Linked DNA regions of Homo sapiens: region 2 is linked to region 1. The links come from fine-mapping of genetic effects on gene expression. A gene starts in region 1. The other region holds a variant in brackets. All regions are shown on one strand. Distances are from middle to middle.

Region 1 (9,736 bases):
CAGTTAGCTGAGGGAAGGCGCAACACGTCAGGCAGGTTATGATGGCCATTAGCTCCCAACTACAATTTCACAGGGACTTTCATTTACAATGGTTCTTAGGCATTCACCTTGCTACACCAGTTAAAATACACACTGCAAAATGAGTGGTGACTCTGATGTCAATAAAGAATTCTATATCCAGAACCGTAATACCTTGTTGATTACCCTTTAGGAGGTTCCTTGGTGACCCCAGCGTAGAGGGTGTAATTTAATGAAATCATTAACATTTCTATAAAGCCAACAATCTGATACATTCTCTTCAGGTTAGGCACTTTCACAGAATAGCGTAAGTGACTGTTCCACATGAAGCATTATCTTTTCTTGTACAACACTGAAAGCTTACATGCTGCTTGACAAATGTGAATTTTAAAAAGTAAGAATGATTGGCACTTGGTAACTTACACAGAAATAGAAAGTGGTACGAGAAAATTGCCCATTTCTTTTAGATTTAATATGTTTTTTTTTCTTTTAAGAAGCAATAAGACATGTAATTTCCATCCACTTCAACCAGTTGTGTATGAAAGAGGCTACAAGTTCAGCTCTGTAGAAGCAAAGAAGTCATGGGGAGAGGCATCACACCAGGAAAGAGGAGACAGCCTTCCCCTCCGCCTTCAGCTCTGCTGTACGAGAGATGGTCATTTTCAGGCCAAGCCCCAAATCCTAGGACTGAGATCCATGCCTCCTTAAAATGATACTGTTCACTCTTGTTTCCCTGACCCACCAGCCCCAATGTCTCACTTATCAAATGTCTCTCCAGGTCTATGAATTGCAAGGAGAAAAAGGAGGCGGATAGGGAAGTAGAACCAGAGTTCACAGACAAAGACTTCTCTCTATGAGTTAGATGCTCCAAACAATTTGGCATAGAACAATGATTTTCTATTAACTCATTTATTTAGTCAACAAATATTTATTAATAAAAAACGGCAAAACACCCAGCTTTGTGCATATGCCATGTTAACATTTCCTTATTGATCTTCATTGAAAAAAAAGATTTTTTTTTTTTTGAGATGGGGTCTCCCTCTGTCACTCAAGCTGGAGTGCAGTGGTGCAGTCACAGCTCACTACAGCCTCAACCTTCTAGGCTCGAGCAATCTTCCCTCCTCAGCCTCCTGAGCAGCTGGGACTACAGGCATGCACCACCATGCTTGGCTCATTTAAAACTTTTTTTTTTTTTTTTTTTTGCAGAGACTGGGTCTTGCATAGCCCAGGCTGGTCTCAAATTCCTGGGCTCAAGCGATCCTCCCACCTTGGCCTGCCACTTTGCTGGGATTACAGGAGTGAGTTCATTACAACAAACCCGGCCCTTCATTGTAATTTTGAAGATGTATAATGACAAAGTAATTGGTGGCTTCAACTCATAACAAAAACGCTGTTTAGGGATCCTGATTTTTTTTCTGATAGGAGTGCTCTGTCATGTCAATTTGCAGTCTGTATGCCCTTCATGGAACACAAACAACTGACCTCATGCTCTAACATACATACGAAAATGTATATACAGGTTGAATATCCCTTCTCCAAAATGCTTAGGACCAGAAGTGTTTCAGGTTTTGGATTTTTTCAGATTTGGGAATATGTGCATATATGTAATGAGGTGTCCTGGGGATGGGACCCAAATCTAAACACAATATATATTTATGTTTAATATACACCTTACATACATAGCCTGGAAGTAGTTTGACAGGATATTTTTCATAATTTTGTGCACCTATCACATGAGGTCAGGTGTGAATTTCCCACTTGTGGGAGTGTCAGCACTCAAAAAGTTTCAGATCTTAGAGCATTTTGGATTTTGAATTTTCAGGTTAGGGATGCTCAACCTGTACTGTATTGATAAGACCACATATTTATTTTTTTCTAGAATTTTCATTGTGACTTTTTTGTGGTTTAGCAGACTTACAGTCATCCCTTACTTAAGATTTAAAAAGAGTTTTCTCTAGTTTGCACTTTAGCATGGAAACATAAACAATTATTCCTTTGAAAACCAGTCAAAGTGGCACTTTGCCTCTAAGTGCAGTTGTTATGCAAAGGAGTTTTTGGTCCTGACTGACAACCACCAAATTAAGAACAACAGGCAGTTTATAACAACATTTACTATGTTCACTGGGCCAGCAATAAGGTTCATTTTTTTCTGTGTTTATTTGCGGAGAGGGGAATGTGAGGGCAAGAACTGGCTTATAGTATCCATCATGGTATTTACAGCACTTAGCACATAGCAGGGAATTAATAAAAAATGAATATTGTTGATTTTACAGAGACTCCAAGAATGGAAGTAGCTTCTCAAGGTTACTCGGGTTGTAAGAAGTGGGAGTAGGGTTCAAAGTCTGGTCTGACTCCAAGGCCGGTGCTCTTTCTCTCATGACAAACTTGATGGACAGATTGGCCACCTTCCTGACTCCTTGCCTCTGTTTCCCCAGTCACAGGTCTCATCCTTACCTTGGCAGGCAGAGGAGGTGGAAGGAGGGGCAGGTAGTATCTCGGTACGGCAGACATTTGCAAATGCCATCAACCCCTCTTCTGAGGCAGCCCTGGAAGAGTCTTACCTTGACTTCTGTTTTTAATCGGGATCCCCTACCTAAGGCACACTGAAATATTAATATATTCCAGGTTATGCTCTAGACTAGACATAGATAGCACGAAACCCCATAAACAAAAGGGCCAAGACAGTAGTCCTTAGGAATGTGCTGATTGGGTTCAACCTGTGTGAGGCCCTCAAGGAAGGCCAATCTAGATAGGGCTGAACACATACCTAACCTCTGTATCTGTAGTAGGTGGAGAAAGATCCTCAATTATAAGCCCAAATACAAGGTATTAGCAAGAGAGATTTAACACCTACAGTCACACTTGGAGTTACAAGGTGTTAATGAGAAAGACATACCAAGGAATATATTTCTCCCCCCTTTGGCCGCGTGGCTTCACTATTGGTGTACAATATTTGAAACCTCAAGTTGTGAAACTCTGAACCAGGAGGGTTTCCTGTATTATGAATGATGTCATCTTTAAGATGAGGGACTTTCAGTGAAATGCGGGAACATTCAGGGTAATGTGTTTTCAGCAAGCAGGAGCTTGAATTTATGGCAGAGGGGAGTGTGTGAGTTGACCAAAATGGAGAGTGATGAGAAGTAACTAAATTATGTATGACAGTCTTTACCGAGCAGAGGAAGGAAGAAAGCTTAATGATGTTGTGGTTGAAGGAGCAGCAGCAATTGGTGATGTATGGGTTGTAGGTTGGTAAGAAGAGAAATGGATCTATGAAGACCCAAAGACTGTAGATGAGTGTGACAAAGACCAAGCGGTGGATTTGGGAGGAGGAGGGAAACCAGGGGCTCGGGATATATGACACATTTTAGCGGCAACAAGACAGCCATGTAAAGTCAACTTGAAATTAAAAATCATCATCTTAATCTATGTGGCTCTTTCAAGCCTGAGTCTTATCAAGGCAAAAAAAAAAAAAAAAAAATCTATAGTTAACGATGAAGTATTTCTCCCTTTTGCTTTCCCGGCATCCACCAAGAGCAGTACATAATTTAATTATTGAATCTACAAGCTGGACCATGAGATGAAGAATGATGTGTCTGCTGTAGTGAGAAATTAGATAGAACCAACTGTTTACTCTCATCATTCTTCCTCCGTTAGGCTAAATTAATATAGTTAACAAGCTTTTGTTTGGAATAGCAGTTCAAATCTGGGATGTGCAGATCAGAACTGGCGATTATTACAGTAGCTGTTATTTATGGAGTGCTGACAGTCCCCTCAAGTCCCATGAATGAAACAGAAAGGGGTTCTTCTGTCATTCTCTGTGCTAGAACCACTGTAAGGGGCTAGACGTCTGCACAGGGTAACGAAGTTCATGAAAACCAGATTAAGTTGCTTGGGGCATACGACTCCAGAAATGTCACTGATGGTCTTTCCTATTGCCCTGTTTTTCTCATCTTTGAAACAACTGCAACAAAATGTGCACTATATAAGTGGGCGAGCATTACCAGGAGGTAACATGCAGGTGGGGTGCCTGTGCGGTGATACGGGTCGAGCAGGGCGCGGCAGGCTTTAGCAAACACCTCAGGCCCTTCCGCACAATTTGAGCAGAAACTGAAAGCCTGTCAGGCGCAGCCAAATGCAAATCTAGCTTCGAGGCACTGAGCCTCGAGGCACAGCGCCCCCGCCGGACCCAGTTCCCTGCCCCATCCAGTGTGTGAAACTGTGACCCAGCCACCGGCCAAGGGTCCCCACGGGGACGCTGCGACACAGCGGGCTCACTCCAGAGACCCAAACCAGGTCTCCCCACCTCCCGCCCCGCCAGTTTCACGGCACTAGATTCTTGGGGTCGTCTTTTAATCACAATCTCCATAGCCGTGTCTCTAAGCAGTTGATGGAACACGGATGGTGGGGAAAACCTCACCACCGCCACCACCACCAAACCAAGCAGCCCCCGACGGTCGTGCAGTCAGGCCCGGGAGCGCCCAACTCGCGGCCACCCAGCGCCACGCGTGACCCGGGCAGCGGGGCGACCTCGGGGCGGTCTGGCACCCGGGAAGTAGTTTGTGCTCGGGCTCTGAACACCGCCGGCCGGACCGCGGGCTGCGTCACGGGGACCGGGAGGCGTACGGCGACGCGGAGCAGCGCCTTTGCGGCGTGCGACCCGCCCCCGCCGTCCCTCCCTCCCTCCCCTCAGGGCTTCGGGCCCCCGGGGCCAGCCGCCGTCCTGCGAACGCGCGGCGCCCGGGCCGCTGCCCCCTTCCGGCCCCGCGGCGGCCCCGCCTCCTCCCCCGACTTCCTTCCCTGAGCACGGCGGCGGCGGGGACGAGCACCGGCCTGCGCGCGGAGCCGGCACCGGATGGTGGGCGGGGGCCAGCCGTGCGGGTACGCGGCCCGCGCGCCCCTAGCCACCGCCGCGTGGCACCGTCCCGAGCGCGTGGCGCGGGGCGCTGGCTGCCGGGCGGGGGCCTGGGGCCGCGGACGCTGGGGGCGCCTCGGCCGCGCTCAGCCTTTAGATCGGAGAATGCGGGCGGGGTGGGGGCGCTCGGGGTCCCCGCAGTCACTCCAGGGTCGATTTCTCGGCGGGCGCCGCGGCCTGTGCGAGGCCGGGCCCCTTGGAGTGCCCCGGGAGGTGGTGCTGGGCGTCTGAACACCACATCCCTTCCTGCGCCCGTGTGTGGGTTGGGAATGCCGGGTGTAGGCCCTGGATCAGAGCTGACGGGGTTGCGAGCGGCGTGGGGTGTGCCTGGGACGGTGACCGGATGTGTCTTCCTGAATCGTTGTATTCGAGCTCCAGTTCTCTCTGTTTCTACAGCTGGGCCTCAGTCCTCACAGGGCTCTAGTGGGCGTTCAGCCACACCAGGAGAAGGCGCCCAGGGGATTAACAGGACCCTTCCCTCTCCTGCTCTTCCCTCGCCCCCCATGGCTCCCCCTCCCTCCTATTTAGTAGGTACTTCTCCAGCACCCCACAGCGATGATGGATGCTGGCCCTAAAGCCAGGTGGGAAACCAGGCTGATTCAGCACCTGTCTTTTCCTGTTAGGGGGGTTGCCAGGCCTCTCAGATGTGGGGCAGCGTAATCAGTGGGTGACCGTGGTTCCCAGCACCCACTCTCCACTGCATCCTTGTCTTAGGCACTGCCGCCCTGCACTGTAGCAGATGCCTAAATAAAGTGTGGAGCCTGAAGCAGAAGTTTTGGGAGATGCTTGCCTTCCTTTAGACCACATTCCTCGCCTTTCTCAAGATTTCTCCGTGGTACCCACCCCGTTTTTGTGTTGTCTTCCTTCCTTGCCCTTGTTTCATTCCTTTTGAAAGCGACCACTCCCCTGAAGTCCTAGGACCCCCTTCGTGGGCTCTCCCTGCCGTAGACAGTCTCTGCTTGCCCCTGGTAAACTACGTTCCAAAAACCTTGCTTTAGGAGTAGCACTTGACGTTTTTCATAGTTTCTTCTCATGTAATTCATTACTCGGAGTTGATAACTTCTGTCCCATCTGGATTATTGAGGAGAAAGGGAAGGGAAAAATTATCTGGTTAATATCAGAGTTGGGAAGGCTTCAGATGTTTTCTTTGAATCCGTCTGGCATGGATGATAATCCTGTGTGGTTTAGGTTAAGTTACCTAAGTTCTCTGAGTCTGTGTAAGATGGGATGGCACTGTCTACCTTAGCTAGGAGTAAGGCTTGAGTGACATGATGTGTATAAACTTTAACAATGTCTGGAATCTATAGATGATCAATAAATATTTCTTTTTTCCACCCTCCTCCTGTGCTGACTCCGCTTTGTAAGGGAGACAGGTAAAGGACACAACAATTTGTAGGCTGGCATAAAAAATCCTATGAGAAAGCAGTAAATAGATGAAATATTTGGGAACGTGAAGCTATAGGTTTCAAATTCAAACTTCTGAAATAGGAAATTTCTTAAGTTTTTACTTAAGACCAGAGACTGTTTAGGGCCCATGTGCTGTGATTTCTGATTGATAAATGTAGCTGAAGTTGCCCATGTTTAGAGATTTAAAGGTTCAGTGTGGTTGGGTTGAACTGGAAAACAGACTTACTAAAATGCTTCTCTCAACTTCTGTTTTGTCATGTTTTTCTTCTAGACCCAACATGAGTGAAGTTTCCTGCAAGAAACGGGACGACTATTTGGAATGGCCAGAGTATTTTATGGCTGTGGCCTTCTTATCAGCACAGAGAAGCAAAGATCCAAATTCCCAGGTAAATGAATTTCACGGGAGAATGCTTAGATACTCACAGGCAAAGAGATTACTGCACATGAGCAGAAAGGGGAGACTCAGTGGACGCCTGTCAACTTAAAAGTGCAGGGTCGGTCTGCCTTTTGTGCTGCGTTTCTACAAGCTTAGTTCTTCCTGTGAGACAGAAAATTGTCACATGCCATTGTTAACTGCCTCTTGTGCCCCTTCTGGGACTGGGGGTGCACTTTCCTTGGCTTGTGGGTGCTGCCACAAAAAACCAGGCAAGGAGACCGACAGCTCTCAGCACCTGCAGCAGCTATGCGTCTGTTTTGAGTTCTGCAGTCCCCCTGGTTTTATTCCCTGCTTCCACAGCGGCAGACCAGCCAGTTGCAGGCACCAAGCCTTTGGGCATGTTTCCTTCTAGGTCGGCGCCTGCATCGTGAATTCAGAAAACAAGATTGTCGGGATTGGGTACAATGGGATGCCAAATGGGTGCAGTGATGACGTGTTGCCTTGGAGAAGGACAGCAGAGAATAAGCTGGACACCAAATACCCGTACGGTAGGGCAAGTTTTATGTCCCATTCTGCTTAGTGACATAGCCTGGTGAGTGCCTAATTAAGAAAGTTGGTCAGAAGGCATCATCTCCCTTTTGTCATCAACAACTGGAAAGAAAAGTATCCTACTGAACTACCCCAATTTCCTGGCCTTGTCTCTTAAGTTCCAAAGAGAGCCACGGAGAGAAGCATGGTAGTGGCCACACAGGCTGGCCCTGAGATCCAGGGCTCTGCTGCCTGTGCTGAGCCTGGCAGGCTTCACTGGCAACCTGCTGGCCTGCACCACACCAGTGCACTGATAGTCGGCGTCTCTGCAGAGGGTCACAGCCCCTTGCAGAGATAGCTGAGGGATGTGCATGGTGTCTCTGTGGGTTCCTTTTTTTACTACTTGGAAGCAGGGTCGGCTAACCAGGGGCTGGCTCGGGCTTTGGTCTGATGAGAAGCAGGCTTCATTCAGCCCATGTGCCTGATGAGAACATCTGGCTCAAGCTCATTGCTGGCAAGCAGGAATCAAACTGTGAACTAGACATCAGGAGATGGAGGATCCAGTTGCTTCCTCCAGTTACAGGGGATGCTGCAATTTCACAGTAGGCTGTGGTCAGACCAAAAGCCAGAAGTGAGGCTGGGCACGATGGCTCACGCCTGTAATCCCAACACTTTGGGAGGTGGAGACGGGCAGATCACCTGAGGTCAGGAGTTCGAGACCAGCCTAGCCAACATGGTGAAACCCCATCTCTACTAAAAATACAAAAATTAGCTGTGCGTGGTGGCAGGTGCCTGTAATCTCAGCTACTCGGGAGGCTGAGGAAGGAGAATCGCTTGAACTCAGGAGGTGGAGGTTGTAGTGAGCCAAGACTGCGCCACTGCACTCCAGCCTGGGTGACAGAGCAAGACTCTGTCTCAAAAAACAAAACAAAAACAAACAAACAAAAAACAAAACAAAAACAAAGAAAAGAAAAAGCTAGAAGTGTAGAACTGTAAACCTTTGGCTTGACTGTCTCTGGATTTTCCCCTTGAAATTAGGGAAGGCTGCTTCTTAGAGTTTGTTGCCTGTCTAAGCCCCAGGGAAAATTCCTTCAGAGATTGCCTGGGAGGGTCCAGCCATAGCTTTACTTTTCCTTGCATTCCTTGGAGAATATGCAAGCAATGCTGGAAAAGAGGCAAATCATGCTGGGTATGCAGGTTGCTGATTTTTGTAAGGTTAGGCCCTGTATTTTATGTCTGAGAATGAACAGACTGGCGCTGTTGGAAGTGAAGGGAGAGTAAGGCCATCCAAATGGGAAAGATTGTGTCTTCAGGCCAAGGCGTGATGTACGACCTTTCTTCTTTGTTGACTCTCCTGGTAGGTTTTCTTCTGGGTTTTTCTCATGAAGAATCCAAGTCAACATTTAGTCTAATTTATATATTTTTACTAATGTTCCTGGACCTCAATCATGTTAAATAAGCCCCATAAATTTCTTTCTAAATTGCCTAGGGGCAACTTCTCCATGTTTGAAAGAAAAAGTTAAGAGGTACCTGGAGAGAGAGGAGGAACTGAGGACTGCAAAGCAGTCTGGGTTTCCAGGATGTGAAAAGTAGTTTAGGGATGAAGGGGACCGAATCCTCAGATCCTTGATTTAACCTCACCCTCCCTCGTCGGAGTGGGAAGAGAGGATGGAGTTGGGGGAGGGTAAGACTGTCTTCTCAGCACAGCTTCAGAGCCGGTGGTAGTGGATGACTAATTAGAAAAATGCGCGGACTCAGAAACTGTCACCCTGATTTTGATTCTATAAGCTTTTGATGGTAAGAAAGAAGGGAAGTGATTAGTTGTTTTTAAGTCCATGCAAAGATAATTTTTCACAGTGCGGTTCAAAGTCCCCTATAAAAATGGTGAAAGTGGAGGGTCGATATGTTAAAGGTCTGCATTGAACTGTGTGACGGCCACAGTCAGTATGTCACCGAGTCTGGGCAGTGAAATATTGGCCCTGGGGCTGGACTTTGATATGGAGGAATTCTGGGGGGATGGCGGTCCGTCATACTCAAGCTGGTGCAAAAGATACCCGTGGTTGGACAGTGCGGAGGGGTCCTGGGTGAGCACTGAGTGGGCCTCCCAATGGGGCCTGTGCCTTCTTCAGTCACCCAGAGCCCCCAGCAGATCTTTAAGCAGTGACCTGGAAGCCAAGGGCCATGCAGTACATTTGCAGCACCTGCCCCACACCCCAGACTTCCCAGCTCTCCTGACTTCCCGTGTAGCTGATTTTGTTGGTTATGAGACACTGCCTTTTGTCCAAATTGAGGAGAGTACCTTTCAGAGCCCCTTTCTAGAAGGAATTTTTTTAAAAACCTGCATAGGTATTTGTCCAACTTCACCGATTGTTTTTTATTGAATAGCTCCTGAGCTCCTGGGCACTGGTTGTCTGTCTGCATTATTTTTTATTATCCATATGATACCTCTAGGTTTTCAAAGCTCTTTGCTCTTACTTATCAATTATTCATTTATA
Region 2 (9,736 bases), 43 kb after region 1:
CAGCCCTCGGGCCTTCCTGTCTCAGAGCAGGGCTGATCACAGTCAGGCCCACTGCAGTGGAGAAAGACTGTGCAGAGCTAGACGCTGGACTCGGATCCTCTCTAGCGTGGGACAGGCACTGGGCACCCAGGTCAGCTGCAGTTCCTGAGAGAGGGCAGCCCCAGAGTCAGAATCAAGGTGTCAATAATAGGAGAAACGATGGTGGGGAGGAGACCAAGGCATTAATATAGGAACTCTGTATACTTTCCAGTCAATTTTTCCATAAAACTAAAACTGCTCTAAAAAAGGAGTCTGTTAATTTTTTAAAATCTCAAAAAGAATGTGGCTGGTGCCACAATGAACAATTTGAGTGAGAAGCTACTCAACGAGGTCAGAGGCATCAGAGAGGAAGAACACAGCAGCCTGTTTTCTTTGCTGCTCTTTACCGTTAGAAAGAACACTTTTACAACAGACTCTGTTTGAGGACAAACGCTCCACATTTTTGCCCGCTGGCAGCAGTCATAAATTATGAGATTTCTGAGGGGCACAAAACTGCAGCGGTCTAAACCAGGCAACAAAAATCAGCCAAGTCCTTATCAGGATCCCCTACAAATTCTATTGACTTTTTTGGATCTGTTTGTCCCTAGGTGTGAACTAGGGAAAAGTCAGGCGAGTCTGCCTTGCTAGTATATTTAAAAGAGGATCTTGGAGAATTTGAAAGAAAATGTGGAAGAAGAAATGACAGTGCTTGGTGAAAGTCAGCAGAAGGGCTTGATAATGGAACAGACTAAGGGTGGTGGATAGTTTTAAGGTTGAGAGAGAAATGGAATTAAAAAAAAGGGAGATATTCCTGGGGGCTTGAAGCAAGAAGCAGCAGCCGAGAGCAGCGCTGATCAGGATGTGAAGGGAGCTTGGTGCGGAGGGCAGTGCTTCCTATGAGAAAAAGTCCAGTGGTCAATCTTTTGGGAAGGAGCTGGTGGGATGAGGGGGCAGCTGGACTGACCTGAGTGCTGTTGTACTGTCTGACCATCTCCTTTGTAAACAGACGCTCCACACTCATGCTCAGAGCAGCATTATTCACAGCAGCCAGGAGGGGGACGTCGCCCAGGTGTTCCTCGGTGGATGAATGGATAAAGAAAATGTAAACACACAGTGGAATCTTACTCAGCCTTGAAAAGGAAGGAAAGTCCATCCAACACATGCTACTGCATGGACGAACTTTGGACAGTGAGCTAAGTGAAAGGAGACAGTCACAAAAGGACAAATACCAGATGATCCCACCTGCGCGAGATGATGTGAGTGTCAAATACATAGAGACAGAAAGTAGGATGGTGGGTGCGGGGCCTGGGAGAGGGGAAAATGGGAGTTGTTTAACAGATACAGACTTTCAGTTTTGTGAGATGAAAAGTTCCGGAGGTTGATTGCAAAGCAGTGTGCATATAGTTAACACTGCTTAACTGTACACTTAGAAATGGTTAAGATGGTAAATTTTATGTTATGTGTTTTTTTTGTTTTGTTTTGTTTTGTTTTTTTGAGATGGAATCTCTCTCTGTCGCCCAGGCTGGAGTGCAATGGCACGATCTCAGCTCACTGCAGCCTCCACCTCCTAGGTTCAAGCCATTCTCCTGCCTCAGCCTCCTGAGTAGCTGGGACTACAGCCTCACGCCACATGTCCGGCTAATTGTATTTTTAGTAGAGACAGGGTTTCATCATGTTGGCCAGGCTGGTCTGGAAATCCTGACCTCAAGTGATCCACCCGCCTCGGCCTCTCAAAGTGCTGGGATTGCAGACGTGAGCCACCGTGCCTGGCCTTATTATGTGTGTGGTTGTTTTTGTTTTGTTTTGTTTTTTTGTTTTCTTACCACACACACACACATACAAAACAGCTGCCCTGGCCCCTAGAGTAGTGAATTTTCACCAGCAGCCACCTAGGGGGTGAATTTTCTGATCATTTTGGGCTCAGTTCTGAAGTTCTGACTTTGAGCCCCACCTCACTCTGAATCTACAATCATTCTCTCTCCTGTCATCCTGTTGCAGTCTGCTCAGCTGCCCATAACTAAATACAAGGGACTGGGCGGCTTAAACAATAAGCCTTTACTTCTCACTGTTCTGGAGGCTGGGAAGTCTGAGATCAGGTGCTGGCATGGCCGGGTTCTGGTGAGGGCTCTCTTCCTGGCTTGTGGACGGCCGCCTTCTCACTGTGGGCTCACCTGGCAGGGAGTGGGGCCGGGAGCAACGGCTCTGGTCTCTTAGAAAGCTACTAATCCCATCGTAAGGGCGATACCCTCATGACTGCATCCAAACCTAATTACCTATAAAGGCCCTACCTCCAAAAACCCTCACATGGAGGGTTAAAGTTTTGACATATGAATTTGGGAGAGGGACACAGCTCAGTCCCTAGCACACCTTTCCTCCAACCCCAGAATTCAAAGGAGCAGCACACATTCCTTCAGCTCCGTCCATTGTAGCCTCCATTCCTCCTACGCTGTCTGAGCATCCTGGACTGTCTTGGGAACACCTGTCCTGTTTCCACCAGCTCCCTGGGATCTGCGGTGCAGACACCCCCTGAGAATGCCCACTCGGCTCCCCTGGGTCTTTAACCCAGGGACCGGCCAGATGTCTTGCTCACATGTCATAAATATGATTGCAATGTGGCTGTGCGTGGAACCCTGGCCCACTCTGGACCCTGAGCTCCAGAGACTCCGAGGCAGAGCTGCATTTCTATTATCACTTAGTAATTGGAGTTTTGCAGGCTTGGGATTACTGCTAATGGAAAGCAAATGGGCCAAGAATCAAGAAATAAGCACTTGAACAGCCAGCAGCACTCGGTAAAGCAAAGAGGCTATTATGCCACTTTATGTGGATAGAGATCATCATTTGCAGAAAGATTTGCAAAAATCTTTCCAGCCCATGGAAACAATGCCCACCAGGCCTTCTGGTGGCCCTGCCCTCCCTGCCTGGTGCAGCTAAGTGGCCGCCCAGGTAGGGAGCCTCACCTGCAGCACAAATTACCACCCGAAGCCAGCCTCTCCCGCTTGGCAGGAGCAAGGTTTGATCTTGCCTTCGCTGCCTGCTTTCTCGCTGGTACACAGAGCTCAGAGAAGCTCTTGGAACCAAAAGCCCTCCCACACACCCTGCCTCAGACTTCCTCGGCCTTCTCACCAGCCCCAGCCCAGAGAACAGGCGGTGATAGGGCTGCCATGAGCTGCTGTGACGGAAAGCTCGGAACAGTGGCTCTTGACTCAAGGAGAGAGAAGTGGCTGTAAAGAGTGACGTTTCCCGGGGTTTGCTGACCCCTGGTCTCCGGGTTAGTCTTGCCCTTTCTCCTCTGTGGGGTTGTGTCACCATCATACATTTACATGAGGGTCCTTTTCTCCATAGATCACGCCACCCCCTTCCCAGTGGCTAAAAGGCAATTTAATATGCAGAAGCTCTGCTAGAACAGCATTAGGTTATGACATGAGGAAATGGAAAAAAAACATCTAAGCCCAAACTCTGCCCTTCAGCCGTCCTCCTGAGACAGCGTGCTGCTGTCAGCCAAGGACAGAGTGGGCACGCTGGGGTTCTTGGGCTCAGCAAACAACAGGAAAACTGAGGCAACTTCAGCTGCTTACAAGAGAGAGACACAAGATTCACATGAGTTCCTAAGTTCAAGTTGGCTGAGGGGCTCAAGGGACTCACCGCGTCCCTCCCTCACTCCGGCAGATGCTGGGACGCTTCCAGACAGCCCCGGACATAGGGGGAGAGGGAGAGGCATGGAAACCCTCTTACCTTAGCCCCTCAGAAAGGTGCCTCCACTCATTGGTGACTCCCTCACTTAGCCATTAAATGTCACTACAGCCCGTTCGCACAGGGGAGAGAATCTACATCTAGCAGTAAAAAAAGGTGATGAAATGAAAGAAGTTGTGAAATGACATTTTTTTCCAGCAGGTTTGTCATATCTCCTGCATGGAGGAAAATTGCTTTCTGTAAATCTTGGTCCAACAGAACAAAACACCTATTTCTTTCCAGTTGGGAGGACAGCCATTCTCATCGGTATAATGAACGTATTGTAAGCTGTGACTTTTACAAAGTCTGAGGGAAACCAATCTGCAATCTTGACAGATACGATCTTTCCAGATGCACTGTTCGTTTACGGCGGCAAGAGAGCTCAATTAATTTCTGAGGGAGGACGGCAGGATGCGACCCCTTGTGCGTGGCCTAGGAGGAACTGTCCCTGTGTGAATTTATGTTCTGGTAATTTAAAAAGATTTATATTAAGCTTTTCTTTCATTTTGAGAGTAGATTAAAATTCTAATGGAAACCATTTGTATGCATTTGTTGAATTGAAGAGTATTTATGGCTGTGTAAAAAAAATGCTGCAAAATTCTGCCGATAATAAAGTCAGTGAAGCAAGAATAAGTGTAAAAACAGGAAGGAAATACGCGATAGAAACCATACTGTATTATACAAGTATAATGAGGGAGGCAAGCCGAGCAGAA[C/T]GGGGCAGGGATTAGGCCCCCGGATGGGATAGTTTTTCTTATTTAGTGTAAGGCTTTTGTAGCCCTTTTATGACTTAAAACAAAATTTAAATTTTGAAACAGGCCAGGTCAGTCTGCACAGACCCCATGGCCACATCACTGTGTCACATCATTCTTGAACTCCTGCCGGTGTCTAGGACAAACAGGCAGGAAAGAAAATCCAAGCGGCGTCTCAGAGAAAAGATGCTGATGGCAGGAAAAGAAGACCCATGAAACAGGAGGCGGGGGTCAGCGAGCAAGGTGAAAATCAGAGCCCCGGAGTGCAGTGCAGGTGGAAGAGAGGTAGCAAAACCAGGGAAGTCGCCGTGCTCGGGACAGTCCAGTGTGTCCCTGGCATCCCCAGTCATTGCCGTGGCCACCTGATCAGAACCTGTACAGAAGCTGCCCCATCTCCTCCACGGTGAGGGCCAAGTTGCATGTGCCACAGCCCTGTCGGTGACCTTTCTGCGGGCTGGGGAAGCAGAGACAACGGCCTGACAATCTGCAGGCACAGCCATCCAAGGGGACAGGGTCCATGCAACAGCCACCAGAGAAAGCTCCTCACTGCCACCTTTGCAGAGGGAGAAAAGCAGAAAGCATCGTGGAGGCCCTTTATCATGTTGGAAGGCCAGAGACATTTGGCATTCCGTCAAGGTCCATCTTAGAGTTGAGAGAGAGTTTCACCAGGAAACTCACATTCTCTCAGAACTAGCAGCCGTGATCGCATGTCGAAGTCAGGCAACGCCAAGCGTGATGGTTAACAGCGCTAAGACAGGAGAAAATGGAAATTCCCTGAGAGTCCACTGCTCTGCTCCTGCGGCGGTGCTTTTCCCCCTCGTTGTAAGCATGCTCTTTACCAGAGCTGCACGGATGTCATAAACTGCCTCACGATGCACTAGAGCAGAATCGTGCGTTAGCAAATTTCACAGATGCAAAGTGGGATTTCTGTCAATGGAAGCCTGCATGGAAAATACGGAACAGCTTAAGAAAGTACTGTCTTCTCTCAAAATTCCACAGGAGCCTGAAATGCAGGGGTTCCGGCCTAGGCGTTTTTTGAGGCAAATAACGTCGCCACACGGCCGAGATACAGGCCCCTTTTTGCCCCATGAGACTTACTGGCCTCAGAGTCCGGCCGCTTCTGTTTTGTTTCTTCATGTATCCTTGGCTTCTAGCGCAGTTCCTGGTACACAGCAGGCGCTCAATACATATTTGCTGAGCTAAGCAAATATGTCCTAGGCCCTGTGGAAGATACGACATGAGGAAGACCAGGTCCCTGCCAAAAAGGCACCGAGGGCCCAGGCTGGGGAGGGTAGTGCTGACATCGAGTAGGCCTTCAGCTCTGACCCCAGCTTCATTTTAAGTGACTAGGAACAAATTCTCAAAACTTCTTTTCTATCAACTCTTCTTCACCCCCAATATCACAGCACAACTGTCTGTCATTGATGGAGTTCCTGCAATAAGACAAGCGCTAGAAGTTTACCATATTTGTATCCTTACTGGATTCCCAAATTAATCCTAGTAAGCAAGTGACATGATTGTTTTTAGTAGAGACAGGGTTTCACTTTGTTGGCCAGGCTAGTCTTGAACTCCTGACCTCAAGTGATCCACCCACCTCAGCCTCCCAAAGTGCTGGGATTAGGAAAATGAATACTTTTGCAAGCACAATGACAGGAGTGTCAAAGGAGGTAGGCTCCACACTCTGATGTCTCTTTATCAGTGAGGCCTTTTCTGACTCCCTCACATGAAGAGCAAACTCACTTCCCTTGTGCCAAAGCACTCAACATATATGACATCCCACACGGGGTAGGCTGAATCGTGGCCCTTAAAGTATGTCCATGTTCCAATCCTTAGAACATGTGAATGTATTACCTTATGTGGCAAAATGGACTTTGCAGACATGATTAAGTTAAGGATCTTGAGATTTCAGGAAAATTATCTTGGATCATTCAGGTAGGCCTGACATAATCACAAGAGCCCTTACAAGAGAGAGGCAGGAGGCCAGAGGCAGAGAGCTACACTGCGGAGCTGCTTTGCAGATGGAGGAAGGGGCCACCGAGACCTGAGAAAGTCAAGGAGACAGATTCTCCCCTGGAGCCTCCAGAGGGAACCAGCCCTGCTCACACCGTCATTTCAGCCCTGCAAGACTTGTTTGGGCTTCTGACGTCAAGAACTGGGACAGAATGAATTTGTGATGTTTTAGGCCACTAGATCTGTGGTAATGTGTTATAGCAGAAATAGGAAACTAACACAACTCATCTCTACTTGTGTATATGTTTGTTATCCGTCTTCCTCTGCTGGGACATGAAATCCGCAACAAGTGGAGGCAAAGCCAGGGACTTTGTCTATTATGTTGACTGGCATCCTTAGTGCTCAGAACAGAGCTCAGAATAATAAATATTTGTTGAATGAGCAAAGACGGAGGGGGCAGTCGCAGGAAGGGGGCCTACCGCGTGGCTAAGGGCCCTGAGGTATGAAAGATCTGAGATGCTGGTGGACGTGGCTGCTTCCCGAGCTGAACTGGGGAAGTGGTGGGGAGGTGGGAGATGTCGGGGAGCTGATGCTGGGGCAGTTTATACTTTATTCTGCAAATGAAGAATTATTGATGGGTTTCATGTAGAGTCATGATCATATTTCTTGATTGCGTTTTTTTTTTGTTTTGTTTTGTTTTGTTTTTTTGAGACAGAGTCTCACTCTGTCGCCGAGGCTGGAGTGCAGTGGTGCGATCTTGGCTCACTGCAACCTCCGCCTCCTGGATTCAAGCTTCCCGAGTAGCTGGGATTACAGGTGCATGCCACCATGCCCGGCTAATTTTTGTATTTTTAGTAGAGACGGAGTTTCACCATGTTAGTCAGGCTGGTCTCAAACTCCTGACCTCGTGATCCACCCACCTCAACCTCCCAAAGTGCTGGGATTACAAGCGTGAGCCACTGCGCCTGGCCTCCTGATTGCTTTTTAAGTAATTTTTTAAAAATAATTTTTCTCTTTATTATTAAATGTTAGAAATATATGGAAACGTGGGCAAAAAGTAAAAATCACTCAAATCTCATTCCTAGAGTTAGTCACTATTAATATTTTGGTGTATGTGTATTTCTTCCTTCAACATTCAGATTATATACTTTTTTGAAACTGGCTTTTTTCTCTTAATGTGAATTTCTCCATGTCATTAAATATTCTCCTAAAAACATGGTCTTTAGTAACTATATCGTATTCTATCATCCAACCACAACTAAGTTCATTTAATCAATTCCCTCTAACTGGACAGTTCTTTTACTCCCCCAGTATTTTGTGATTTTAAGTAATAATAATAGCACCTGGCATATACTAGGCATTCCATATTTGTTGAATGAATGCATGGTTCAGAGAACATTTCAGACATAAACCTTTATATGTATGTCTAATTGCTTCTTCAGGAAAAAAATTCTTGCGAGTGAAAATGTTGGGTCAAAGGCTGTATTTTTTTTAATGGCTCTTGATACATATGGCCAAATTGCCTTTCCAAAAGGTTATAAAAATTATAACTCCACCAACAGTATATGGGTGCATAATTTCGCTGCTCCAAGGGTGGTATTGTAATTTTTCAAACCAGTATTTGCATTTTAGAAAAGTTTCCATGGGGACATGAAGGTAGTAGTTAGCCGGTCTTGTGAAGTCCAGGCAAACAATAGAAAGAACCTGAATTGTAGCATTGGAGGTTGTGTTAGAAAGAAGACAGATTCAAGCTGTACAGGATGTGACATCCTCAGGACTTGAATGTAGAAGGTTGAGAGAGATGTTGGAATGACCAACTCCGGCTTAATTAACCAGACCTTTATTGTAAGCTCATGGGGCAACCCACAGAGTCAAAGCTAAGGTGTCAGGCTCCAGAAACACTGAGGCAGCATCATTTGGGATCCAAGAAGCAGAAAGGAATGGATGGTATCTTCTCAGGACCCCACCCCCAGAATGAGACTGTTTTTGTGTCACATTGCTTAAGGTTCAAATTCCAGAGAGAGGGGCGAGTCTGGCCTACTGTGGGTCAAGTGTCCATCCTGTGGCCAGAGGCAGGGGGTACCTTGATGGATAGTCCTTCCAAGAAGAGGGAGGGGTCCGTACTGTTTCCAGCAGAAGACCATCTAAATAAATACCAGGTATGCAAAAATCTATGGCAGTCTTCTCCAAATGTCAGTGCTTCCCATATTTAACAGTTCCTGCTCATATTCAGCCTTTCCTTGAACACAAGGATAACTCCTTTCTAAGAAAAAGAGGAAATAGGAGGGAGACAGAAATATCTTCTGACCTTGCTGGGATCCTGGCTCAAATCCCCTGTAACCCCGTGCCCTCTGGCTTCCTGGACCTTGGAGTGGCAGTCAGCTAGCTGACCACCAACATCTGTGCTTCCTCTCTCATGCCATGAGGTTGCTTCTGGGAGCACCTGCCCCTCCAGAGGCAGTGTTTCCCAGCCCCACTTGCACTGGCTTGGGGCCACGTTCCTACCAATGGAAAAAGCTGGGCCAGGGTTTTCTAGAAGCAGATGTCCCTGGACCCGGAATTACCACAGAGGGAAAGCTGCGTGCCAACCAGGAACACCCTCATTGGACTGAGATGTGAGTGAGAAACAAACTTTGAGTATGTGGCTCCATTGAAATGTTGGGGTTTATTTGTCACTGTGGCTAATTTATAACCTTCTAAACACCTCTAGATACTTGTTTAATAAAGGCCTGAGAAGAAATAAATGAGCCATGGGTAAAAAGGCCCCTACAGGATTCCAGAGTAACATAATTCCTTAAAATATAGGAAATAGCCCAGCAATTCCAGTCTTAGGTCTATATCCAAGAGAAATGAAAACATGTGGCCACACAAAAGCTTGCGCATGAACGTTCACGGCAGCATTGTATGTAACAGCCAGCAGGTGGATACCCAGATGCCCATCAACTGATAAGTAAAACTTATATCCATACAATATTGTTTGGCAATACAAAGAATGAAGTACTGATACAGATGATACTATGTATATTTAACATCATGCTAAGTGAAAGAATCCAGTTACAAAAGACCATGCGTTGTATGATTTCATTTATATGAAGTGTCCCAAATAGGCAAATCCATAGACTCAGAAATAAGTTAGTGGCTGCCTGGAGGTGGGAGTGTGAGGGGGTAAATTGGGAGGAGATGGGCAGTAAATGCTAATGCATATGAAATTTCTTTTTGGGGTGACAAAACTGTTCCAAAATTCATGGTGGTGATGGTTGCACCATTCTGTGAATATATTAAAAGCATTG

What was found.
Region 2: its variant is fine-mapped to the expression of DCTD in whole blood (TOPMed, PIP above 0.99).

The regions. Positions count from the first base shown.
Region 1 is chr4:182,912,448-182,922,183 of GRCh38, reverse strand. DCTD (dCMP deaminase) reads left to right here and starts at 4,798. Exons shown (of 6, transcript NM_001921.3): 1 at 4,798-4,873; 2 at 6,609-6,723; 3 at 7,126-7,261. The coding sequence starts at 6,616. RefSeq lists an enhancer at 2,834-2,883 and a silencer at 4,457-5,166.
Region 2 is chr4:182,869,049-182,878,784 of GRCh38, reverse strand. LOC105377576 (a long non-coding RNA gene) reads left to right here. Exons shown (of 3, transcript XR_007058403.1): 1 at 1-130; 2 at 1,025-1,274; 3 at 3,907-7,662. Among named protein-coding and RNA genes, the nearest start is that of DCTD, 43 kb to the left of the region's middle. The variant C/T (reference allele first, on the strand shown) is at 4,461.